Regions from separate parts of the Homo sapiens genome. Here region 2 is linked to region 1. Evidence: fine-mapped QTL for protein levels in blood plasma. A gene starts in region 1. The other region holds a variant in brackets. All regions are shown on one strand. Distances are between the middles of the regions. Region 1 holds the start of LTBR (lymphotoxin beta receptor). Region 2 has its middle 24 kb from the start of LTBR.

Region 1 (8,000 bases):
TGCTGTGGTCACAGAGTTGCAGGAATGTGGGCAACCAGAGGCAGCGCGAGGGCCACGCAGGACACTGTGGACACAGACCCGGAGCCCAGGAAGAGGCAGGGAAAGCAGGCACTGAAGGTGCAGGGAGGATGTGGCCAGCGCTGGAAAGGAAGAGGGTGGGCATGGCACACGCCTAGACAGGCCCTGGGAGGAGGAGAAATTCGTTGATGGGCTATATTTTCTCCAAAATCTCTTTCCAAACTTAATGCAGCAAAAGGATAAGGAGTGGAGTGCCAAGTGGTGAGCAAGGAGAGAGAGGAGGGTCAGAGAATCAGACCCAAAAAGGGCTGGAGGAGACTCGGGAGAGCCACCCACACAACCCAGGCCCTGCACGCGGCAGGGAAGGCTGCCGCTTCCTCACGGGCCCCACAGGAGGCAGCCCAGAGTGCAGGAATGTGGTCACTGGCTTGTCCTGCCTCCCTCCACAAGCCAGCAGACAAAGGCCCAGCCTGAGCATTGATACACACCGGGGGAGGAGATAGGCCTGCAATACAATAAGATAAGGTTTCTATTTGTACACTTTAAAAGATTGTCTTTAAAACGGACTTCTAACAAAAGTGCAGATCTCAGATTTCTCAGAGATAAGACATAAGAGCCAAGGGCTAGGGGAGCCTAGGGGCTCACTGCAGGAGACTCAGGAAGCCTTCCCAGAGAAGGTGTCATCTCTGCTGAATCTTGACAAGCAAGGAGTTTAGCAGGCAAAGAAGAGAAAAGGCAGTACTCCAGGCTCAGGGTCCAACCTGGTCTGTGGCTTCCTCTCTTGCGGCAGTCTCTTGCGACTTCTTAAAGTGAAAGCCGGTGTCAACCAGGATTCCAAACCAGGTTCCCTTGCTTACCTTGATACTGCTCATGATACCTCCCCTTGGAAGGGACAGCTGGATTTTTCTTCATTGTCCTAATGAAGAAACTGACCCTTCCCAAGGATAAATCAGTTTTCTGAGGTTAGAAAACAAAATAGGAGCAGAGCTATAAACAGAATTCAGAATTCTCCTCCTCCTCTGGGGCTATCTACTTAGCGCTTTTGCCATTTACTTCCTGAGACAGACTCATGGGGGATCGGGGCTCAGGTGCACCTGGATGTGAAAGCCGGGAAGGCCTCCCTCACTCCCACACAGAGCCCGTGGATTCGTCTGCTCTCTGGGTGCTGGGTTATCTCCTTGGCTCTGTGAAAAGGTCTCTGCACTGTCCCCACTGCCCCACATATCCCAGAGACCCCTAGAAACTCCAGTCTCCCTTGAGCCAGGTCCTTACATTGGGCATGGTCCTCCCTGCAATAAGGTGCTCAGCACCCTGGCTGTTTGATCTCAAAGGTTCTGAAAAGCACCTCCCTGCCTTTTCTATTTGCCAGCTCATGCCTGAAATCCAACCACTAGCTTAAGGCAGCATGGCAAATAGTTTTCATATCAAGGGCTCTGTGAGAAGAATTGCAATGCCTGGTCTGGGCTGAGCCAAAGGGTGGTGACCCTGCCACGTCCTGCCGGGTATGGGAGTGGCAATGCGAGCCTAGTGCTGCAGCATTCTAGACCTGGAGCGGGCTAGAACAGGCTTGGTGTTGTGAGGAAAATAGAAATCTGAGACCTGGACTTTGGTCAGAAGTCCATTTTAAAGATGATCTTTTAAAGTGTACAAATAATACACAAATATGTTTTTGTCACAGTACAATTTTTCAGCAATACAGAAGTATATAGAGCTTCCCTTAGTCCCCTTCCTTTCCCTCCCCAAAGGGGAGCCACCATAATTTGTATATCTGTCTATATCTTTTTGTGTGCCTTTATAAACTTACATGTATTTTTAAAAAACAAAATATATAGTTCTTTTTTATGACAGAGACCATGCTATAGGTATGTTTCTACAACTTCCATTTTTGCTTTTATTTTCTTATTTATCTTAGAGACAGGATCATGCACTATCCTCTAGGCTGGAGTACAGCAGCATGATCATGGCTCACTGCAGCCTCCAACTCCTAGGCTCAAGCAGTCCTCCTGCCTCAGCCTCCCAAAGTGCTGGGATTACAAGTGTGAGCCACCATACTCAGCCCCTATTTTTGCTTTTAAACTATGTGACTTTGAGAAAGGCACTTGACCTCTATGGGCCCCGGTGATCTTACCTGAGAAAATGAAAGGGCAAGAAGGGGTGGGTAAGGCAACCCAGATGGACAAAGACTTTTTCCAGCTGACCTTGCATCTAGCCCCCTGCTTCATGCATGAGGGGACTGAGGCCCACAGAAGCAAAGTGACTTGGCCACAGTCACCCAGGAGTTAGGGGTGGGGTCAGACTGAAAACCAGGCCACTCCTTTCCAAGCCCAGTTCTCCTTCTCTGACTTTGAGAGAAGTACAGTTTTGTTCTATAAGAAGTCAAGAGCTTTGTAGACTCTGTCTTGGAAGGACCCCCTGCCTTCCCAGGACTACCCCCAGACTCCCCCAGAGCCCCAGCCCTTCCCGCCAACCCAGGGCTGCCTTCCCCTCCCAACACCAGCTATCCTCTAACCCTGTGGTGTGGCCATAAAATATGCACGGCTGCAGGGAGAGAAGTGAAACCAGAGGGGCTGCCATGGGATGAGGGTTATGAGTGCAAAGGGTCTTCCTGCCTCTTGTTCTCCGCGGACAGGAGATGACGGAAGTAATCACTCCACCCTCCTAGGGAGAGCCTATCTCTGCACTTACCACTGTTTACTATTATTTATTATTATTATTTACTATTATCCTGATGTATGTGTGTTTGTACGTATACATCCGTTTGGGGTCCCTGACTTCCCGCAACACAAGGACAGAGACCAGGCGTATTCATCTTGGTGACCTCAGTGTCTAGCGGTCACTGTTTGCTGACCCAGTCTGCAGAAGACAGCAGAACTGGCGTCTTTCCTAGTTTATCTTTGACAGAGCGGGATATGCTACGAAAAAGCATCTGCAAAACTTCAAACATCCTAACTTCCTCTGACAACCCATTTATTTGTGGTCTATTAATTTATCTAAATTTTCTTCACTTTTCCCTGTTCACTTCTATCCTTTCCAGGATAAGAATCAGTTACTTAGTTAAATGCAACTCTTTATTCTTACTACTTGGAGCTAATTAGCCACTTCACACTGGGGGCTGCCCACTGTGGAAGACAACAGTCCTTTCAGCTGCCCTTATGTGGTACAGATTTCTCTTTCATTTAAAATGATGGACCAGAAAAATGCCACTCTTCATCTAGTCCCCTGGCAGTTTACTTAGAAGTTCACTACTAGAAGTTGGCCGGGCATGGTGGCTCACGCCTGTAATCCCAGCACTTTGGGAGGCCGAGGCGGGTGGATCATGAGGTCAGGGGATCGAGGCCATCCTGGCTAACATGGTGAAACCCCGTCTCTACTAAAATTACAAAAAAAATTAGCTGGGCATAAGTGGTGCACGCCTGTAGTCCCAGCTACTCGGGAGGCTGAGGCAGGAGAATGGCATAAAACCGGGGAGGTGGAGCTTGGAGTGAGCCAAGATCGTGCCACTGCACTCCAGCCTGGGAGACAAAGCAAGACTCTGTCTCAAAAAAAAAAAAAACAAAAAAAAAAACAAAAAAAGAAGTTCACTACTAGAAGTTTATCACTTTGATTGAAGACAGGGTTTATCAACCTTGGCACTATTGACATTTTCGGCTGTATCATTCTTTGTGGTGGGACAGGATGATTCTGTCCTATCTACAATCCTGTGCAGGATGTTCAGCAGCATCCCTGGCTTCCATCTATTAGATGCTAGTAGCACCTCCTGAGTCATTGTGACCAAAACATCTCCAAATATTGCCAAATGACTTCTGGGGGGCAAAGTCACCCCCGTTGAAAAGACTGGGTTAAGGCATTGTCACCACTGAAAATGCAAATACTCTGGAAAAGGACAACCCTCATCTGTTATGCACTTCTGGGTGTTTGCCAGACCATTTCCAAGAGCACTAGTCAGCTAAGAGCAGAGTGGAGAAGAAGAGAGAAAGAAAAAGTATTTAGAAGAATCCATTCCTGGCCGGGTACAGTGGCTCGTGCCTGTAATCCCAGTACTTTGGGAGGCTAAGGTGGGCGAAATGACTTGAGACCAGGAATTCAAAACCAGCCTGTGGCCAACATGGCAAAACACCATCTCTACTAAAAATACAAAAATTAGCCGGGCCTGTTGGCGCATGCCTGTAGTCCCAGCTACTCAACTTGGGAGGCTGAGGCCAGGAAAATCACTTGAACCTGGGAGGCGGAGGTTGCAGTGAGCTGAGATTGCACCATTGCACTCCAGCCTGGGCGACAGACTGAGACTCTGTCTCAAAAAAAAAAAAAAAAGAAGAAGAAGAAGAAGAAGAATCCATTTCCATCAGCCCCCTTTCTGGATGCCTAATGGGCCTGTGGAAAGAAGGCTCTCTCAGCAGCTCCTTCGGAAGAAGGCCTGGGAGAAGAGTCCCACCCTCACACACCTTCTAGGCGTCCTGGGGTGCTCGGTCTGGGTCTGGTGTTGCCCAGTGGAAATCAGTCTCAGGAGGCTCTGGTGAAAAACACAAAAGGACAGGAGTAAAGACAATGCCCTGCCCGCGGTGAACCTGTGGATTTCTCACCCCTGGAGTCTCCCTTTATCCTCCTGGGGATGGCTGGGCATTATAGTAGCCATTTATTGGTAAGATTTGTCTTTCGTGATCCAGCTGGGAAACAAGAAACACTCTAAGTCTTTCAAACAGAAGAAGTTTAACACAGAGAACTAACTGGTACATGGGTGATGGAGGAGCTGAGAAGACAATGGGAGGCAGCTCAGAAAACAGCAGAGCGGGAAGCAGCTACCATCTCTAGGCCTGGAAAGATGGCAGGGTGATGTAGCATCAAAGACCAAGAAGCCTCCAGAGCCATTTGGCAGGAACTAAATAGTGTGGACTACTGGTAGGAGATGGGATTATGGAAGTGGGGAAGGAAGGAAGACAACCAACTGCAGGTGAAGCCAGAAAGCAGAGAGGAGAGAAATAGCCTGGCTGCTTCACTCCTCCCATCCCACCTCCATCCCACAGACCTGCAAGCAAACCAGTAGCTGACTGACACAATAAAGAGGCACACAGAGATAAAGTGATGGGGCCAGGATCAAAACCCAGATCTCAGGGCTCGTTCCTTAGGGTGTAGAGAGTCCATGAGGGCTGAAGCGCCAGCTTACGGCTGGCAGCAGAAAGAAACATACAGTCCAGCCAGCTGGGGTTAAAAGGGGTCTGGACATAGTGGTTACCTGTGAAGCAGGAAGCTTTGACTGGGAAGGGCATGTAGCAAACATTTGTAGTGCAAGGAACATTCTGGGGCCGGGTGCCGTGGCTCACGCCTGTAATCCCAGCACTTTGGGAGGCCAAGGCGGGTGGATCACAACATCAGGAGTTCAAGACCAGCCTGGTCAACATGGCGAAACCCCATCTCTACTAAAAATACAAAAATCAGCCAGGCATGGTGGCAGGCGCCCGTAATCCCAGCTACTCGGGAGGTTGAGGCAGAGAATTGTTTGAACCTGGGAGGCAGAGGTTGTAGTGAGCCGAGATTGCACCACTGCACTCCAGCCTGGGCGACAAAGCGAGACTCTGTATGGAAAGGAAAAGAGAAAAGAAGAGAAGAGAAGAGGTGTTCTGGACCAGTTGGGGGATATGCAAGAATACACAAAAGTGAAGACTCTCTGAGCTGTATCTGTAAGATCAGTGTACCTTACGGTTTCATTGTATTATATGTTACACCTCTATTAAAAGAAAGGGTCTCAGCAGCATAAGACAGGGTGGGGAAAAAAAGAAAAATAGAATAGAGAAAGAGTCCCTGTCTTTTAGGGTAAAATCCTGAAATATTTTCAAATGAAATGATATGATGTCTGGGATTTACTTCAAAATAATAATGAGGGATTTGAAGAGTGTGTGCGTTGGTGGGGGAGGGGGTATACAGAATAAATGAAACTGACAGTGAGTTGAAGCTGGGTAAGGAGTATATGGGAGACTCCCAATATTACTTTTTCTCTTTTGGTATATTATCTTGCATGTGGAATTTCCACAGTAAAAAGTAAAAAGAAGAGAGAGAAAAAAGGACCTAGGGTCGCTACACACACATTCCTTTACGCGTTTAAGAGCTCAGCAGGGACTCTCATCCCAGCCCCCAGCGCTAGGGCCCTGGAAGGCTCAGCAGCCCCGCGCAGTGCATGCTGTTCTGATACTTCTGCCCTTTCCAGCCATCTTTGGCCCATCTGTACGGTGAGCTGCCTGCACCAGGTGAGGGGAGAGAGCCTCACAGAGTGAAATGCCTACAGCCTAGGCAGGTCCTTTCCCCCTTTTGTGACCTCTCCTCCCCATGCACACTTCCCATCACCTGCACCTGTCCAGACATCAGACCTGAAGTTAGACAGACCAGTGTAAGGACGAGTGCTGAACAGAGTCCTTCAGGGAGGGGGATAGTGCCCAAGTGACCTATCTCAAGAGAGGTTAGCCCCTCATCCCAAGGGAGACATCCCTGAGCCACAAGGAGTTGGCAGGACTGCTGGAATGAGTTGGGACCTAGACATCAGGAGACCCAGATTGTAGCTGGCTCTGCGGTGGACTGGCTCTGTGATGTGGCCATCACTCATTTATTCCATAAATACCTATTGGGCACATGGTATGTGCCAGACTCTGCTAAGCATGGGGAACACAGACTTGAAGATTCAGCCTGGGCCATGGTGGCACTCACAGCCTGGTGGGAAGCAAACAAGACAGCCAGGTACAGAGGGCAGTCTTCACGGGGACTGTGCAACCTAGGGCAGAGGTTGCCTTCCAGAGCCTCAGTGAAGCCTCAAGGACAGGTGGGAGTTAGGAAGACGGAAACTTGGGGACCAGAGAACCACGTGTAAAAGGGGGCAGCTGCAAGTAACTCCACGGGTGGGTGGGGTGTTGGGTTGAGGGAGATGGGAGGATGAAACAGGGCAGGAACGAGACCAGGCCACCCTGGAATCCCGGTTCCCTTATGTATCACCCTTAGCCTCCCTCTCCATGCTTAAGGTGAGGGGGCTGGACTGCGTGGGCTCTCAGCTTTCTCCAGTTCTAAGGGGTTTGAAGGTTCATGGGCAAAGAAGCCAGAGCAGAGGGACTGAGTGCCCAGGTCCAGCCTGCTGGCCCCAGGACTCCCCTCCGCATATCCTCCCCCTCTCTTTGGGAGGGAGGTTCCCTGAGGACAGGGAGCAGGGCAAGCTGCACAGCTCTCAAGGGTCTCCTAGGTGACCTGTGCCCACTCCTGTGCGGATTGGGCTGGGTTGGTAGCGTGGGGGGCTGGCTGATTTGCTAGTCCCTTGTAATTTGTCTGAAAAACTCCCACAGTAGGGCAGGACAACGGGGGAGGAACCCGGGCATCTGCCAGCCGGTTCTCCTCGGTCTCAGAGCTGCTTCTGCGGCCTTGCAGTCCCCGCGCCCTGCCCTCTCCATGACTGCCCGTCCTGGGCCCCTCGCTTTCCAGATCCCGCACCCAGCTGTCCCTTGCGCTCTCTGGAACTCCCTCTGCTCTCCCTGCGAGGCTTGTCCAAGGGCTGACCCCGGGCCCGCCGCCCTTCCCTCGGCTGGGCCAGGGCTGTCCGCAGTCCGCTCTCCCGATCGGGCTTCCGAAGAAGGGAGGAGGCCGGTTCCGGCCCCGCGGCCCTCACGTGCTTTCCCGGCCGCCCCTCCCGCCCCGCATCGAGGCAGACAAGCCTGTTCCTCTTCCCTGGGCTGCGATTGCGACAGGCCGGCCTGGCTCCCAGCGCTCCCTGTCCCCGCCCCGCGGCCAGCTCGCTCCACTCCCACTTCCTGAGCTCCGCCATGGGAGCCCTGGAGGCCCGGCCTGGCCGCTCCCGGCCCTGGGGTGCACATCGGCCCTGAGTCCCGTCCCAGGCTCTGGGCTCGGGCAGCCGCCGCCACCGCTGCCCAGGACGTCGGGCCTCCTGCCTTCCTCCCAGGCCCCCACGTTGCTGGCCGCCTGGCCGAGTGGCCGCCATGCTCCTGCCTTGGGCC
Region 2 (8,521 bases), 28 kb after region 1:
CTTTTCATATAAATTTTAGAATCAGTTTGTCAATTTCTATCAAAAAAAAGCTTCCTATGATTTTGATTGATAATGCATTGAATCTATAGATCAAACTGGGGAGAATTAACATATTTACAATATTGAATTTTCTAATCTATGAATACAGTATATCTTTCTATTTATTTATACCTTTTTTTTTTTTTTTTTGAGGCGAGGTATCACTCTGTCACCCAGACTAGAGTGCAGGCTAGAGTGCAGTGGTGCAATCATAGCTCACTGCAACCTTGAACTCCTGTGCTCAAGTGATCTTCCCACCTCAGTCTCCTAAGTAGCCGAGAGTACAGGCACATGCCACCATGCCTGAGTAATTTTTTATTTTGTGTAGAGACTGCGTCTTTCTGTGTCGTCCAAGCTGGTCTCGAACTTCTGGCCTCAAGTGATCCCCCTGCCTCAACCTCCCAAAGCACTGGGATTACAGGTGCACCCAGCCCACACCCAGCCCACACCCAGCCCCCACCCAGCCTACACCTAATCATTTATTTATATCTTTGTTGATTTCCTTTTTCTTTTCTTTTTTTTAATTTAGCCAGCTTTTTTTAAATTTTAACTTTTTTTTGGAGGGGAAAGGGAGTGGTCATGGACATACTGAAGTAGACACAAAAATATAGAGAATACTGCACTTCCCAGGGCTCGTCACACGTGCTTCAAAAATTACCAACAACTTGCCATTTTGTTTCATTATCTGCACCCACAATGGTGGATGAGGGAGTCTAAAAAATATCCCAAACATGAAATCTCAAAAATGTGATTTTAATCATGAATATTTTCACAAACATCCTAACAGATATGAATATAGAGAAAATACACTAAGATTTCACACCTAAGAAAATTTTAAAAATGACTTATAACATTATCCAATACCTAGCCCTTAAAGAAAGGAAATCCTGAATTGTCTGAAATATTTTTTATACTGATTTTGTCTGAATGAGGTCCCACCAGCTCCAAATATGGCATCTGATGGCTGTTCCTCTTAAATCTATTATAATCCATAAATTTACCCAAGTCTCCAAGTAGCCTGTCTGCTCTTTGAAAAAGGAATTGAGAGACCATAATCTGAGTGAAAATTCTCACTGATCATGGATTGTCATTGCTTTTAAACCATTCTTTGAAAAGTATTGCAGAAAAAAATGTTTTGTTTTCTTTTTTTTTGAGACAGAGTCTCACTCTGTCTCCCAGGCTGGAGTGCAATGGCGCAATCTCGGCTCACTGCATCCTCCACCTCCCAGATTCAAGCAATTCTCCTGCCCCAGCCTCCCGAGTAGCTGGGACTACAGGCGCGCTCCACCACGCCCTGCTAATTTTTGTATTTTTAGTAAAGACCGGGTTTCACCATGTTGGCCAGGCTGGTCTCAAACTCCTGACCTCCTGTGATCCGCCTGCCTCAGCCTGCCAAAGTGCTGGGATTACAGGCGTGAGCCACCGCGCCCGGCCAAAGGTGTGTTTTTTATGAGAGTATTTTTAAAAACATTCAAATTGTCGGTCACAGCTCCTTGCCTATGCGCCTAAAAAGAGATAGCCCAAGACAGACGGGGGAAAGAAAAGGGGAGACAGAAACAAAAAGAAAACTGGCAAACAGAGGAGAAGTCCAAAAGCCCAACTCCCATAAGTCAAGACTTCCCACAGTTCTCTAAGTCAGCAAATGAATGTAATTTAAACTGCTTTAAACGTCATACAAAAATAAATCCTTTTTAGTAAATCGATAAACAGAGGCATCTCCGTGACGACTGGTGGCAGCATGTACTCCTCCTTTTCTAAAACAAGGAGTTCTAAAACAACTCAAGGCAGCAGAGAGCCCTGAGTTGCAAACATGAAAAGCATAACTTTCTCGAGTTGGCTGTTAAGTGTAATAGGAGAGGCACCACTCCACTCCTACCTCTCCTTTCTTTAACCAATGCATTTTGGCTACAGAAGAAATTATGCCTATTCTTAGTCACTATTAAGCACATATACAATGTCGAAAATTGAACAGTACTCCAAGAGGGTGCAAAATGACTACATGCCACTTTAACTGAGGCTTCCAAAAATTGAGATTTCTACTTATAAGGAATGTGGTACACATTAGAACTACTGAGTCCCATGGTCATCCATGCATTACCTTACCCTTTTTGTATAACTTATAGAAATGGGTCCAAAAAGACGTTGTGAGATATGAGGTATGAAGTGTTCAGTAAGTTCATTGATGGTCCTGCTAGCAATAGCATGTAAGTGAAGCATATCCAAATCTAGAGTAAGTGTTTATCTCAGTGAAGACAAATCCCTGCCCCATCCATGACAAAATACTTGCAAGAATACAAGAATACTTCCCCTGACATATGGGACACTTAGCAGCATCAGCATCCAGAGGTCAGCCTTGGTGAGCTAAGTCTATACTATAGAGCTCAAGTATAACCTCTACCACTGCCTGCCACCCTAGTCACATTTTTTTTTTTTTTTTTTGAGATAGAGTCTCACTCCGTCACCCAGGCTGGAGTGCAATGGCGTGATCTCAGCTCACTACAACCTCCACCTCCCAGGTTCAAGTGATTCTCCTGCCTCAGCCTCCCGAGTAGCTGGGATTGCAGTCACCCGCCACCAGGCCCGGCTAATATTTGTATTCTTAGTAGAGATGGGGTTTCACCATGTTGGCCAGGCTGGTCTCAAACTCCTGACCTCAGATGATCCACCCACCTCGGCCTCCCAAAGTGCTGGCATTATAGGCGTGAGCCACCACGCTGGCCACATTGTTTACAAATAAATCACTTGGGCAGTAAGTGGGGTGATACGAAGAGACTACATGACAGCCATATGGTTGATGTGTACCTGATTGCTGATAGCCTCCTCTGAAGAGTGGGAATTTCGATTAGCATTCACGTGGGACATTATTCTCATATTCTGGGACCGTTCTGGGAAATTCATCCACATCACTGTTTCCTGAAACTTCTTGTCAACACAACCTTCACTTTTGCCCACTTAAAATCTCTGTCTATCCACACCATTAGCCATGCACATTCAGTTTAGATCAGTGTCTTAGGTCACGCTCCTTCCAGAAAAAGTAAACAATGACATTCAATACTCCAAATACTGCTGAGTGGCAGCAATTCTTTCCCTATTGCCAATTATGGACATATTTGACTGGGGTAATATTATTACGGCTTCTAATACTACTGTTACAATTGGCTTCAGTAGTATTAGCCAACATATGTTGAATGCTTACTATGTACAGGACAGTGTTCTAAGCATACTAAAACTATTCGCTCATGAGAGGCACGATTACCTCTCCATTTTTAAAATGAGGGGAAAAGCCAGAGGAAAATAAGAAGAAAAAAGAAAAAAGCCAATTTGTCTGGAACTGGTTAGTAATGGGCTGAACTTGTAGCATTCAGTTTTTCTTTTCTTTCTTTCTCTTTTATTTATTTATTTATTTATTTATTTATTTATTTATTTCTTGAGACGGAATCTCCATCGCCCAGGCTGGAGTGCAGTGGTGCAGTCTTGGCTCACCGCCTCCTCCGCCTCCTGGGGTCAAGCAATTCTCTTGCTTCAGCCTCCCAAGTAGCTGGGATTACAGGCGTGTGCCAACACACTGGGCTAATTTTTGTATTTTTAGTAGAGACGGGGTTTCACCATGTTGGCCAGACTGGTCTTGAACTCCTGACCGCAAGTGATCCGCCCGCCTCGGCCTCCCAAAGTGCTGGGATTACAGGCAGGAGCCACCATGCCCGGCCCCATGTTGATTTCTTTCGTCAGTATTTTGTAGTTTTTAGCACACATATCTCCCACGTATTTTGTTATATTTATACCTAAAAACTTCATGGGGGCTGCTATTGTAAATGGTATTCTATAAACTACAGTACGTTGTTTCTTTGTATAGATCCAAGATTTTGATTATATTTCTTCTTCTTCTTTCTTTTTTGAGACGAAGTTTCACTCTGTTCAACCCAGGCTGACACAATCTCGGCTCCCTGCGACCTCCGCCTCCCGGGTTCAAGCAATTCTCCTGCCTCAGCCACTTGAGTAGCTGGGACTACAGGCGCCCACCACCACGCCCAGATAATTTTTGTGTTTTTAGTAGAGACAGGGTTTCACCATGTTGGCCAGGCTGGTCTCAAACTCCTGACCTCAAGTGATCACCCGCCTTGGCCCCCCAAAGTGCTGGGATTACAGGCGTGAGCCACCACACCCAGCCTCTTCTTCTTAGAGAACTTGCTTTGACATTTATTATAAAGTAGGTCTGCTGGCAATCAACTTCCTCAGTTTCTGTTTGTCTGATAAACTTTTAATTTTGGCCTGGTGTAGTTGCTAATGCTTGTAATCCCAGCATTTTGGGAGGCTGAGGTGGGAGGATCACTGGAGTCCAGGAGTTTCAGACCATCCTGGGAAACGTAGTGAGACCCCGTCTCTAAAAAAATAAAAATAAAAATAGAAAACTCTTAATTTGGGCCAGGCACAGTGGCTCACGCCTGTAATCCTAGCACTTTGGGAGGCCAAGGTTGGTGGATCACCTGAAGTCAGGAGTTTGAGACTAGCCTGGCCAACATGGCGAAAACCCGTCTCTACTAAAAATACAAAAATTAGCTGGGTATGATGGCAGGCACCTAGCTGAGGCAGGAGAATCACTTGAACCCGGGAGGCGGAGGTTGCAGTGAGCCAAGATCATGCCACTGCACT[C/T]CAGCCTGAGTGATGGAGCGAGACTCCATCTCAAAAAAAAAAAAAAAAAAGATATTACTCCATTTCATTTTGCTTTTATTGTTTCTGACTAGCAGTCTGCTGTAATTCTTATCCTCGCTCCTCGGTAAGATATTATGTTTTTTCCCCCTTGGCTGACTTCCAGATTTTCTTTCTCTTTGGTTTTCAGCAGTTTTAATATGATATGCCTAGATGCATGGGTTTGGTGAGGGGCTGTGTTGTTTTGGTATTTATCCTGCTTGGTGTTCTCTGAGCTTCCTTGATCTGTGCTTTTCTGTCTGTTACTAATTTTGGATAATTCTAAGCCATTATCTCTTCAAATGTTTCTCCTGTCTTATTCTTTTTGTTCGTTTGTTTGTTTGTTTAACTAAGTCTGATTAGACAAATCCTGTCCAAGTCTTTCTTCTCCTTCTGGAATTCCAATTATGGGCATGTTAACTCATTTGGTATTCTTGGATGGTGTCTTCTTTCTTTCTTTTTTGTTGTTGTTCTGTTTTGTTTTTTACCCACTCTTTTTTTGCACTTCAGTTTGGGTAATTCCTCTTTATTTTTTTGCAATTTTATAACTTTATTTGATGTATTTGACTATCAGCGATTAGTTCTCATCCACATTGACTGTCTGTAGATTTTTGAAAGTGGTAGCAAATACATAGGTAACCAAAGTATAGAGCTTATTTGTGAATCTTCATCCTCATTACGTTTTCTGGACAGCCGCACATGGATTCGGTGTCGGACATTCCTTATTCCTTTGGCCCAGACAGCTTTGTTGAGCCTGGTATCAATGCGCACATCTGGAGTTTCCATCTCCTTCATGGCAAATTTCCGAATCTCTTTGAGTGCCCGAGGGGCACGCTTCTTGAAGCCTACTCCACAAATGCGCTTGTGAATGTTGATGGTGTATTCTCGGGTCACCACTTCGTTGATGGCAGAACGGCCCTTTTTCTTCTCGCCACCCTTCTTTGTGGGAGCCATTCTGCCATGTCCAAGTTGGAAAGGGAGTTTGGGAAATTTCTATTGACCTCTACACCCAAGGTCACTGATTCTTTTCTCAGCTATACTGAGTCTACTGATGAACCAGTCAAAGGTGTTCTTCATTTCTGTCACCACGATTTTATTTCAAGCATTTCCATTTTATTCTTATGGTTTCCTCTGCTGAATTTATCCATCTTCTTTTGGCATGTTGTCTACCTTTTCCATTAAATCCTTTAACATAATCATGTTACTTTAAATTCCATGTCTGATGTCATATCTGAGTCTGGTTCTGATTTTTTTTTTTTGTCTTTTTAGATTGTGTCTTTTTCTTTTTTTTGAAACGGAGTATTGCTCTGTCACCCAGGTTGGAGTGCAGTGGCATGATCTCTGTTCATTGCAACCTCTGCTTCCTGGGTTCAAGCAATTCTCCTGCCTCAGCCTCCCCAGTAGCTGGGTTGACAGGCATGCGCTACCATGCCTAGCTAATTTTTGTATTTGTAGAGAGGGGTTTCACCATACTGGCCAGGCTGATCTTGAACTCCTGACCTCGTCATCCGCCTGCCTTGGCCTCCCTAAGTACTGAGACTACAGGTGTGAGCCACCATGCCCAGTCCAGATTGTGTTTTTTCTTTCCTTTTTGTATACCTTGTGGTTTTCATTGAAAGCTGGATATGCTGTATAACACAACAGATACTGACATAAATATTTTGTATTCTTGAAGATAAGCATTCATTTCTTTCTGCTACTTCTCTAGTATAGAGATTTCCATTAATGTAGTCAGGAGGGCTGGGTTTGAAGTTTGCTTTTGCACCAACATATATTATTATCCTCAGTGCATCAGGGGCTTAAAATTCCTCTAGTGGTGCCTTGTTTTTGTCTCTTGGATTTGTATCTTCCTTTTGCACTGTTCCCTAAATAAAGTCTGTCTCTTGCAAGTTCTCCCAGATACATTCTTGTATTATTTTTCACTGGAGGCCTGTCATGTGGTGGTAGGCTATGAAGGAGGTTATGTGTTCCCTTGTGTTATGATTGAGGCTCAGCCTTAGGTAGGCACTATGAACCTGGATCTTGGGAGTGTGGCCTTCATAATTGCCCTTCCTCCAGGTATAATGGTTGGCCTGGCAATTATTCCGGTCCTCACTAAAAGGAAGAACTTCTTCTTTTTTCCCCTGTTCCCTTCCCCTAATTTCAGTGGGTTTCCACCAATGCCCTCTGCCCATAAGTTTTGTGTTTTCTGTTTTTTTGAGACAGAGTCTCACTCTGTCCCCCAGGCTGAAGTGCAGTGGTGCGATGTTGGCTCACTACAACCTCTGCGTGATGGGTTGAAGCGATTCTCCTGCCTCAGCCTCCTAAGTAGCTGGGATTACAGGTGCCCACCACCTGGCTAATTTTTGTATTTTTAGTAGAGATGGGGTTTCGCCACGTTGGCCAGGCTGGTCTCAAACTCCTGACTTCAAGTGACCCACCCACCTCAGCCTCCCAAAGTGCTGGGATTATAGGCATGAGCCACAGCATCCGGCCTGCCTGTAAGTTTTTATGACCTTCCCCTTGCAGATGAAGTCTTGTCCTAAAGGAATGGAGTCTTGGCCATAGCTGCTGTTCCGTTCCCCACCCCCAGCAAGCACCATGGAGCAGAGGGTGTCAGAATTCTCCCATTTCACCTATCTTCCTGTGGGTGATTGATGGGGGTCCTGAAAGAAAAGCCTGAAAGAAAGCGCAAGACTCCCTTTGTCTGCAGCTTCCAGGGACTTCATACTCTCTTAATCACCAACAGTAGGCCACTATTAATTGTTAAAAATGTCCAGCTTAATTTTCTTACTTAAGTAAGGAATGCTCAGGTACTGTTTCCCCCTGTAGGTACCTGTCTCTCTCTCGGTTTCAGGTTGTCTGCCCTGTGACCTCAATTCTCTTAGGAGATCCAGAAAAGTCATTCATGTGCAGCTTTTCCAGCTCTTTTCTTGTTGCATAGCTGGGAGCAACACTCTTGCCATCGTTTCAGTTTGGACCAGAAGTCCACTAAAGGACTTTAAGCAGGGAAAGGAAATGTTCAGATATGTTTTTTTTTTTTTTAAGATGGAGTCTCGCTCTGTTGCCCATGCTGGAGTGCAATGCCTCGATCTCGGCTCACGGCAATCTCCGCCTCCCAGGTTCAAGTGATTCACCTGCCTCAGCCTCCCAAGTAGCTGGGATTACAGGCGTGCACCACCACGCCTGGCTAATTTTGTATTTTTAGTAGAGACTGGGTTTCACTATATGTTGGCCAGGCTAGTCTTGAACTTCTTCAATATTGTGTTGGCTATTCTGGATCTTTTGCTTCTCCATATAAACTCTATAATCAGTTTGGCAATATCCATAAAATAGCTTGCTAAGAGTTTTACTGGGATTGCATTGAATCTATAGATCAAGTTGGAAAGAACTGACATCTTGACAATATTGAGTCTTCTTCTCCAGGAACATGGAATATCCTTCCATTTATTTTCTTTGATTTCTTTCATCAGAATTTTGTAGTTTTCCTCATATAGATGATTTTTTTTTTTTTTTTGAGATGGAGTCTCACTCTGTCTCCCAGGCTGGAGTGTGGTGGCACGATCTCTGCTCACTACAAGCTCAGCCTCCTGGGTTCAAGCAATTCTCCTGTCTCAGCCTCCCGAGTAGCTGGGATTACAGGCGCCTGCCACCACGCCCGGCTATTTTTTGTATTTTTAGTATAGGTGGAGTTTCACCATATTGGTCAGGCTGGTCTAGAACTCCTAACCTCAGGTGATCCATCCACCTTGGCCACCCAAAGTGCTGGGATTACAGGAGTCAACCACTGTACCCATCCCCCATGTGGATCTTGTAC

What was found. A credible set is the group of variants that fine-mapping cannot tell apart. PIP is the chance, under the fine-mapping model, that this variant and not a neighbour inherited with it causes the effect. Protein levels are from antibody-based Olink assays in UK Biobank. Linkage for the fine-mapping came from a reference panel and not from the study's own genotypes, which makes the PIPs less certain.
Region 2: its variant is the best candidate, but not a certain one, in a credible set for the plasma level of the LTBR protein (UK Biobank, PIP 0.84).

What each region holds. Positions count from the first base shown.
Region 1 is chr12:6,376,377-6,384,376 of GRCh38, forward strand. LTBR (lymphotoxin beta receptor) reads left to right here and starts at 7,786. Exons shown (of 10, transcript NM_002342.3): 1 at 7,786-8,000. The coding sequence starts at 7,983. It also overlaps a transcript of SCNN1A not described here. RefSeq lists enhancers at 15-619, 6,839-7,704.
Region 2 is chr12:6,404,335-6,412,855 of GRCh38, forward strand. It overlaps the pseudogene RPL31P10. Among named protein-coding and RNA genes, the nearest start is that of LTBR, 24 kb to the left of the region's middle. The variant C/T (reference allele first, on the strand shown) is at 4,690.